Regions from separate parts of the Homo sapiens genome. Here region 2 is linked to region 1. The links come from fine-mapping of genetic effects on gene expression. A gene starts in region 1. The other region holds a variant in brackets. All regions are shown on one strand. Distances are from middle to middle.

Evidence for each region. PIP is the estimated chance that this variant, and not a neighbour inherited with it, causes the effect.
Region 2: its variant is the best candidate, but not a certain one, in a credible set for the expression of ENPP2 in whole blood (TOPMed, PIP 0.79).

What each region holds. Positions count from the first base shown.
Region 1 is chr8:119,636,658-119,641,871 of GRCh38, reverse strand. It overlaps ENPP2 (ectonucleotide pyrophosphatase/phosphodiesterase 2), which reads left to right and starts at 3,033. Exons shown (of 25, transcript NM_001040092.3): 1 at 3,033-3,124; 2 at 3,345-3,447. The coding sequence starts at 3,092. RefSeq lists a silencer at 2,818-2,917.
Region 2 is chr8:119,675,452-119,680,665 of GRCh38, reverse strand. No RefSeq gene overlaps it. Among named protein-coding and RNA genes, the nearest start is that of ENPP2, 39 kb to the right of the region's middle. The variant G/A (reference allele first, on the strand shown) is at 3,208.

The DNA of each region.
Region 1 (5,214 bases):
GCCAGTCAATCACGTCTGCTGCAGGAACCAGGTCTTATCTCCATAAACGTGGTTCTTATCTGACTTTCATCAAAGTAACCTATTGTGCCAGTTCTTGTCTGACCTCTAAACTCCTCTTTCTTCTCCCCACCTGCCAGACCTAATGAATCAGGATCTTGATACGCAGGACATAAACATCAGCATTTTAAACAAGGCTCCAGGGTGATTCTGATACCCAATAAAATTTGAAAACCACAGAATGATTTCTAGGGACTGAGACTGTTGACAAATATTTGTTTCTAGTTCTAGGTTTTCTTCTGCCAGGGGGCAGTGTTCTCTGAAATATGGCTGGGCTAATAAACCATGTTGGAATTTAATTTTTCAGTCTTTCTTATGCACTTCTTGTTTACTGAGCCAGCCACATGTGTCCTTATTACAAAATCTTAAACACCATAGCAAGTGAACTTCTCATAATTTAGTTTTCTTACAAAAGGTTTTGGACTAATTCCAGTCATTTTAGTTGAATTTCTTAACCTACTTTATGCACTGTGAAGCTTTTTTTTGTTTTTTTTTTTCAGCTTTAGGTAATGAGGGATAATTTTATTTTGTAGTTAATTTGATAGCCGAGGTAGGGACTTTGGTCATCTTGGTCATTCTCCTGACAGTTAATTTATAACAATAATCTTGTAGTAAAAATCTGTTTAACTGTGGCAAAATGATGTGTGTATGCACATATATGCTTGTGTGTGTGCGTGTATGTGTTCATGTTAACATGTTCCTTATGCACAACAAGCTGGTAAAAGACAAAGTTCTTTGGCAGAACGGTTAACAGAAATAGTGGCTGAGGGCCAGGCACGGTGGTTCACACCTGTAATCCCAGCACTTTGGGAGGCTGAGATGGGCGGATCACCTGAGGTCAGGAGTTCGAGACCATCCTGACCAACATGGTGAAACCCTGTCTGTATTAAAAATACAAAAATTAGCCAGGCGTGTTGGCATGCACCTGTAATCCCAGCTACTCGGGAGGCTGAGACAGGAATCACTTGAACCCGGGAGGTGGAGGCTGCAGTGAGCCGAGATCGAGCCATTGCACTCCAGCCTGGGCAACAAGAGTGAAACTCCATCTCAAAATAAACAAATAAACAAACAAAAACAAAAAAACAAAGAAATAGTGGCTGAGGTCAACTCTTTTGGATATTGGGTAACAAGCAGATCAACTTGGCTATTACAGCTTTTCCCCCTGCCCAGCTAGTCTGCATATAAGAGAAAAATAAATGGATGATGTTCAGCTCCTGAACCCTAACTTTTTTTCCAAGGGAACCCTCATTGTCTTCTAGCTAGGTTTATACAATCAAATATCAGACAAAGTCAAAAGTTGTTAGACTCTGGCAAGGCAAAAGAAGAGGCTGTTTTTGTTTTTAGAACATTTAGAGCACTGTGGCATATAATGAAATAACAGGATTGCCTTGATATTTTTCTTTGGGGTTTATTGTTTTCCTCTATCATGTCTGGCTTGTATCTTGAAATTTAACATAAATTATAGGAAAATCTTTCATGGAGTTAACATCTTTTATAAGCCTTGCTAAATACCCTACTCCAAATTTGTTCAGTATGGCATACAGACAAAAGCAAGAGGCTTACATATAAAAATGTATAAGCCTGTCCTCTTTGCAACAGTGCAAAACTAAAAGGATTTTAGAAAGGCAATTAACAGTTTGGCAGTATGTGTATTTTCTTTTTTTCAATTAGATATTACTAGATTCTAAGAATCTGTAATGAAACCCAGGCCTACTGTACAACCCCCTATAAACAAGTTTTTGCTTTTGTGCTATCATGTTTTATTTGAGCAGAGCCACTACTCTGTTACTAATTTGTTGCATGGTAAGTCTCGTATTTGTTTACGCACGAACACATGTGCTGCGGAAGAAAAGATGGTCACTGGACCTGCTGAGGAAGAGGCCAAAAACAAATCTTTTTCCCTCATTTGAATCCTGAAGGCATGTAATATTTAAACAACTTTCAGATTTAGAGCCCTTGATTTTTTCTTTTGAAAGTGTGCTGGTTGCCAAATTGCTTAGTAAAGAAACTTTAGTACCCACAATAGCCTCAAAGGACACAGTATTTGGTGGCTACATTTAACCAAGAAATAACTAGGGAAACAATTCTTGACATTTCAATTCTTGCTGCCATTGAGATTTCCTTCCTAAATTCAATTGCTAATAAAGCTTCCCATGCCATCCCCTTCCCCCACCCATCTGCCTCTCAAAAACCGCCCCCTCCTCCGCCCCGCCCGAAACAAGCTGACAGTCTTTACGGGAAGAAGAGGCAGAGACTGAAGTTATTTTGTCCGTCCTCCCAGGGCAGAAGGACTTTATGCTGCGTGGCTGGCATTTCCAGTATTTTGATAAAAGTTACTTCTCTAAACTTGAACCACAGCATGGGGAAAATAATGTTATCTTTTATGTTAGTTACAATTTTGCGAAATTTCATCATGAGAAACTTTCAAGGAGGCAGAAGTAGCTGAGAATGTGATACTAGGGACAGGGTCGCTCAAACTGCCAGCAAAATAAATAGATGGGAAAGACAGGAACGTTATTAGGTTTATAAATGATAAAACTTTCCTTGCTTAAAAAAATAAAGTGGTGAGGTTGACGCCATTGAATGACTGCATTGTAAACCTTAAAAGCTTAAAGCTGGTGGAAAGCCCTTGCACAGCCCTGTTTTCATTTTTATCGGATGAAATGCATTTGGTTTCTTTTTGACAAACCATGTTTTTGTGAGGAAAGGAAAATGAACATGCACTGTTATGGGCCACGGCAATGTAACAAACCCTCCTGTTGCCAGAGGATACCACATGAAAGTGTCTGTGGGTTAGGGGAGGGACCTGTAAGGGGGCGGGGATAAGGGGGATGATAGCTTAAGCCTCTTAGGCTCAGAGCTGCGATTTGTGAACACCCTGTGATGTAATCAAGCTCTGGACAAATCAGAGGAGTCTGTCAACCTCCCAGGTGGGATTGCTTATAGTTAATAGACTAAACCCAGAGCCTCAAAGCAGTGCACTCCGTGAAGGCAAAGAGAACACGCTGCAAAAGGCTTTCCAAGAATCCTCGACATGGCAAGGAGGAGCTCGTTCCAGTCGTGTCAGGTGGGAGAACGGAGGAATGACGGGGGACATGCTTGATCTTCAGAATCAGTGACTGATTGGCATTTTCCTTTTTGTTGTGCAAATTAAGATAGCACCTTATTATGCATTTTGGAAGTGGTAGGATTGGGTGTTGATATTGAAGCCATTTGAATCACCTTTGTGTAATTTGATTTAGTCTTCTCCAGCTGTATTTGACAACTTGGTCTCTTTATTCTCTTAGATAATATCCCTGTTCACTTTTGCCGTTGGAGTCAATATCTGCTTAGGATTCACTGCACATCGAATTAAGAGAGCAGAAGGATGGGAGGAAGGTCCTCCTACAGGTAAGTGTCAAAACTATTTGCATTTTCAATTTTTTAAAAATATTACATACGGGGTAATCAATGTAAGCTTATTAAAATATTTATTTTTAATACAATCTTGCAGTATAACTAAGTTAGTCCTAAATTTCTCTGGGTAAAACCACCTATGTGTATAATTCAGGTGGGAGAGTGTGGTTTTCATTAGAGAACATTTATGATTGTTTCATAACTGGCTATTTCCATTTTTGTACTCAAATTTGTAAATGTTAGGATACAATTAAAACTCTTGTTCACAGACAAGGCTAAAGTAGAAGTGGTGAGAACAGGTGTTGGTTTAATATTGGAGCTACCCAAATCTGATTTGCTGTCACATGATATAGGATGTAGTATTTGCCACTAGAAAGTTCTGATGTAGGAAAAAGGAATGGAAGTAAAAAAGGCAGTGAGCTATCTTTATGAAACTTCAGAAATTTAGGACTTTAAGATTTACTTAAAATTGGAAAAACATAAAAGAGAGGAGGTGTTTAAAGAGTTTTCAGGATTGATTTGTCCTCATTGTGTGTCCTTATGGCAAAGGAAAGGTAAGTTTTAATAGTGTACCTTGACTTAAATAATAGAACCAAAGTGAAAGAGTTTCTTTTTACAATACACTACACCATAAGTAGTGTTCCCATACAGTGTTCTTATAAAGGAGCTCCTTGTGCAGACAGAGGGGGCTTAACTGACCAGGTCTTAAGCAATGAGTTGGTTAATTTCCTGGAAATTGGAGCTGCTGATGGTTTTAGAAATAAAAAATTACATTTTAAGTAATGGGCACTCTAGGGAACAATATTTTCTGGACTTTTCCTGACATTCCAGCATGTTTGTCTGTCTTCCTGTGAATTTTGTGTTTCTCTGTATGTCTTGATCTGATTGTTATGAAAGACCATCACTTGCCTCTGTTTAGCCAGCTTGAAATTTTATTATCAACCGGGTTAGGACACATACATTGATGGAATACTAAATCTTCCTTACATCAATTAAGTTACTTTTGAATCATGCCAGTAGGTTGAAAGAATAATATTAGAAGTGAATTAGTGAATTGAAGTGGGGTGTGGCGGGGTTAAGAGTGAGAAAATAGATCACAAAACTTGCAGCCCCAGGGAGCCAAATGGACAAAATGAGTCGTCTTCTGTTGGGGAGGCAGAGGACAGTGGATCACTGAGCTAGAGAATGCTGTTTTTATTTGCAGCAAATGCTCTCTTCAAAGGCCTCTTTTTCACTCCCATTAACACTGACTGTGACTGAACAGACAGGGGAATCAGATCCTTAGCATGGTCATGTGGGAAAGCTAGCAACTTGAGAGCCAACTGCTGGTTCTTTTCAATGAACACTAAAGGGAACTTTTTTTTTCTGTTTCCTCTTAATATATTACTCTGGCTAAAACTGAGATTGAAAGAATTAAATGCTGTTTCCTTAATGAATGTAAAATTGAGTCACTCATTATTTTTAAAGGTGACTTCTTTTGGAAAACAGTCATTAAAATCCTAGGCTGGTACCCTGGAGTCCTGTAACTTGCTGTGTGGTGTTGGGCAAGTCACTTGTGAAGTCTGTTTCCTTAGCTGTACAATGAGGAGCAGACTTAGATGATTTCTACTTTTCTTTCTGGATTAAAAAAAAAAAATCCCAGGAATTATTCTGTTTCATTGCCTCTTGAATTTCTGTGCTCACTACTGGAAAACTTGAAAAGTATAGATTGGATTTATTAGTCTTTGAAAATATTTTGTGTATAGTAAATTATTTCCATGT
Region 2 (5,214 bases), 39 kb before region 1:
TTCTCTGGGGCCTCCTTTGGTCTCTCGAAATTCCTTTCAGAGTTAAAATTCCATGCTTTCATGAAATGTTTGCATTTTGAAGTTTCAGCCCACAATAGGATCTCAATGCATATCTGTCAAAGGGAGGAATGAGCATTTTTTGTGCTAGACCCAAGGCTAGACTGGGAGACACAAAGATAAAGGAAAAAGGTCCTTACTAATGCTCACAGTGCAGCAGCAGAGTTGGTCTTATACACAGGTGACAACCGGGCACTGTCCTAGGAGCTGTCCTAGCTGGGGAATCATAGAGAAGGGAACGTCATGAGGGATGGTGGAGCGGAATCTGAGCAAAGGTTTGCCAGATGTGCAGGCAAGCCCATTCAAAGCAGTGGAAGTGAGACAAAGGTCCACTAATTATGCTACACAACTTGAAATAGACATGTGAGGCTTACATGCAAGAACAGCTCCCCGGGAGCTTGCAGGATAATTGTCTGACCAGCTGACAGCAAAATCAAGATACCCTGTGGCTCCTTGCTGCACTGTCTGATGCAGACAGATGGTTGTATCTGACCAGTAGATTGCCTACGGAGGGTCAGCACCCCAAGGGCCGATTTCAGGTGTATTTTGGAGACACCTCCTGAGGGCTTGTATTCAGATCTATTTAGGAGACAGCACATACAGGTCTGGCACATAAAAATAGTACAAAGAAAATAAAGAAATTGTGGGAGAGGGGTGCAGGTGAATAGATGATCTGCCCTTGGTGAACTGAACCAAGTTCCATAAAGCCAACAGACTCTGCCTACTAGTGGTACTGGTGAATATATGGTAGGAAGAATTAGATGCTTTCCATCAACTTTAAAAAAAAATTTATTTAGACGGAGTCTCACTCTGTCACCCAAGCTGGAGTGCACTGGCACAATCTTGGCTCACTATAACTTCCACCTCCTGGGTTCAAGCAATTCTTGTGCCTCAGCCTCCCAAGTAGCTGGGACTACAGGTGCTCACCACCATGCCTGGCTTTTTTTTTTTTTTTTAATTTTGTATTTTTAATAGAGATGGGGTTTCTTCAAGTTGGCCAGGCTGGTCTCTAACTCCTGGCCTCAGGCAAGCCACCCACCTAGGCCTCCCAAAATGTTGGGATTACAGGCGTGAGCCACCCTACCCAGCCTTCATCAACTTTTTGTGCTAGGAATGAACGTAACCTATCTCTCCCTTCACTTTCTGTGAATTACTCTTCAACTTCATCTAAATCTTTCCACTGTCCTAGCTCATAGCAAGCAGAACACAGATGATCATCTGGCAGAAGAATCCTGCATGGTATGTGAAGTTTTCCTAGAATAATGGTTTGCAGTACTTTTTAAAGCATCAGAACCCCCTTTCGATATTAAATATTGCTTAGAAGAACAATATACAAACAGCTGTGATCAAGCAACAAGTGTAAACATGCATTGGTATTTACAATGTCCCAGGTGCTGTGCTATGCACTTGTATGTGTGTTTTTTCATTAAATCTTCACAATTCTATGATGTGGTATCTATAAAATAGGAATTACTTCTATCCTTTTTTAAGAGATGAGGAAGCAGGACATCAAAAGTTACAGGTAATGTGTGGCAAATCTAGATTTTGACTCTGGAAGTTTGCCCTCAATGTGGGGGTCCTGATGGTGCAGGAGGTCCTGTTCATATGGCCCAGCTGGGACAGGCTGGGGCGGTAGGAGGCACAGCTGAGCCCTGTTGAAATCCATCTCTCTTTCCTGCTCTTCTGGGGTAACAGGTGTAGCTAAGTGTCTCCATTCTCCTTCCTCCTTATACTCTCTCACCTTGGGGCTCAAGAATTTGGATGATTTACCAGGCTGCTGTGAAATTTGGTCTAAGAAACATTGCCTTGGTTCATCCTTCAAGATCTCTACCAGAGTCCATATTCCATCGTATACACTCAATAGGAGAGTGATGCTTATAGACAAATAGGTCTTCAAAAGTGGAAGTTAATACCAATCACAACAGACAAGGTGTTGTATGATTCTATTTATATGAAATGACCAGAATAGGCAAACCTATAGAAACAGAATTCTGTCTCTATGAATGGTTACTGAGGCCTGGGAGAATGAGGGGTACAAGGGGAATGACTGTTAATAAGTACGGGGTTCCTTTTGGATTTGGAGTGATGAAATATTCTAAAATTGATTGTGGTGATGGTTATATACTTTTGTGACTATCCTAAAAACCATGGAATGGTACCATTTAAATTGGTGAATTGTACATTATGTGACTAGGTCTCAATAATGCTGTTAAAAACAACAACAACAACAAAAATCACCCAGAAATGAAAGCAGAGCATCTCGTTTAAAGTTCATTAAGTGTGTTACTTCATTTCCTTCTACAACGTCTGTGGAATGCCATTGCTGACTAGGCAGCCTGCCACACATGGGGCACAGGAGAAAAGAGCTCTTGGTCAAGAATAATCATGACACAGCAGCAGGAAGCAGCCTTGACTGCACTAATAGCATGTCATGAGCAAGCAGAGAAGAGGCCCAGAGCCTGGCAGAGGAGCTTGTGTTGAACCCAAACCCAGATTTTACCAGTAGGGAAACTCCTTAGGGAGCCAGGCTGGGGCATGGATGTTTTAGTAGAGCTAGCACCACTTGAAAGGTTGGAAAAATGAGAGGGCAGGGCTTGTTTGGGGCTTTGCATGCCTAGATAACAGATTATGTGGGGAGAGACCAAGGAGAAGAGGACTAAAGATAAGCAGAAGCTGAATGACCCCATTCCCTGAACATTCATTCATCTCTTCACTCCTTTATTGAGCCTCACTTGTGTCATGCAGAGGCTAGGTCAGTTGTTCTCAAGCTTGGCTTTTGGAATTACCTAAATCTCACCTCAGTGATAGCTGGTCTGAGTGTGCTTTGGGCATGAAGATTGTTAAGAGCCTGGGAGATTCTAATTTTAGTTGATGTTGAAATTCAGTAGGCTGTATGATAGAGATAAAGAAAAAATTAAAAAAAAGATTAAGGCAGATATGGTGCTGGCACCTGGTGTGTACAATCAACAATGCTTTCTGAGTTGCCTACTAGGTACGAGATACTGTGCTGAGTAAAACATAAGAGTCTCAGTTCTCATGAAGGTTCAGACTAGTGGAAACAACAGAAAATAAGCAAGTGGGCAGACTGAGAAGCTTTTCATCACAACATCAGATAACTGATATGAAGGAAACAGGAAAGGTTAAAAGATA[G/A]CCAATAACGAAGAAAAAGATGGCTCATTAGATTGGCTGGTCAAGGAAGAACTCTTTCTTTTTTTAACATTTACTTACATATGTACATATAAATGCATACATATATATGTACAATCATCAACACAAATTACCATCTCCAAAAATTCCTCATGCCCCACTGTAATTTTTTTTTTAATTTTACTTCACGTTCTGGGATACCTGTGCTGAATGTGCAGATTTGTTACATTGGTATACATGTGCCATGGTGGTTTGCGGCACCTATCAACCTGTCATTTAGTTTTTAAGCCCCGCATGCATCAGGTATTTGTCCTACTGCTCTCCCTCCCCTTGTCCCCCAACCCCCAACAGGCCTCGGTGAGTGATGTTCCCCTCCCTGTGTCCGTGTGTTCTCATTGTTCACCTGTCACTTATGAGTGAGAACATGCAGTGTTTGGTTTTCTGTTCCTGTGTTAGTTTGCTGAGAATGATGGTTTCCAGCTTCATCCATGTCCCTGCAAAGGACATGAACTTATTATTTTTATGACTGCATAGTATTCCATGGTATATATGTGCTATATTTTCTTTATCCAGTTTATCATTGATGGACATTTGGATTGGTTCCAAGTCTTTGCTATTGTGAATAGTGCTGCAATAAACATGCGTGTGCATGTGTCTTTATAGTAGAATGATTTATAATCCTTTGGGTATATACCCAGTAATGGGATGGCTGGGTCAAATGGTATTTCTAGCTCTGGATCCTTGAGGAATCACCACACTGTCTTCCACAGTAGTTGAACTAATTTACACTCCCACCAACAGTGTAAAAGCGTTCTTATTTCTCCACATCCTCGCCAGCATCTGTTGTTTCCTGACTTTTTAATGATCACCATTCTAACTGGCATGAGATGGTATCTCACTGTGGTTTTGATTTTTGTTTCTCTAATAACCAGTGATGATGAGTTTTTTTCATATGTTTGCTGGCTGCATAAATGTCTTTTTTTTGAGAAGTGTCTGTTCATATCCTAGGAAGAACTCTTTGAGCAGGTGACATTAAGCCAGCACCTAAAGTATGAGTAGAAACTGGCCTTGGAAGATCTATGGAAGAATGTTCCTGGCAGTGGGCACATGCTGGGTGCACGTGCTGTTGTTGTTGTTACTGTTGCAAGGAACTGGCACATATTCAGACTCCATGAGGAAACATGGTGTGTGGGAGGGACTTTAATGTGTTTATAGGCTGTAATGTTTTATTTATCCGTGTATGTGAAGAATCAAAGACGCTTGATTATAGTTGCTTTATAAATGCCTATGGAATAAATGAACTGATGTTATCAGTAGAGAAGAAGTTGAAAGGAAAGGCGATGGTTGATGAGTTTTCCATAGGAAGTGGGAAGAGAGGGAATCTACAGTGCACAGAAAAAGAGGTACCTCTGAGGTAGGAAGGGAGAAGTGGAGAATAGATATATTTTTCTGGTGCAGGGACAGGAAATAGAATTTCCTTCTGATAGCTACTGTGTTCTTTATTGGGGGAAAAGAGTTTGTTTGCTGAAAGCAAGCCAGGTGGGAGTGGGATCAGGGTTCTAAAGAGGTGGGAAGTGTTACTTTGCATAATTAGAGAAGTGAGCTGGCTGGGGACATTTGTAAGAACTGAGGTGGTGCTGAGTGCCCAGCCAGGGGTAGGCCAGACATCAATGGTGGTGCCAATGGCCATGATTTTGGAATGATGTTTACCTCTAGCAGATAGCTACATCTTCGGTGGAGAATTTGCAGATGGGTATGGCAATGGTAGGACAAAGAAATGAACAAATTGAAGTGGAAGGAGAGACAGATCTAAATTGATATTAAAGACTAGTCGGAGACATAGAGGAAGTATTGTCAAGAAGGAGCTGAGGTCAGACGCAGTGGCTCACACCTGTAATCCCAGCTCTTTGGGAGGCCAGGGCAGGTGGATCACTTCAGGTCAGGAGTTCGAGACCAGCCTGGCAAATATAGTGAAACTCCACCTCTACTAAAAATAGAAAAATTACCCAG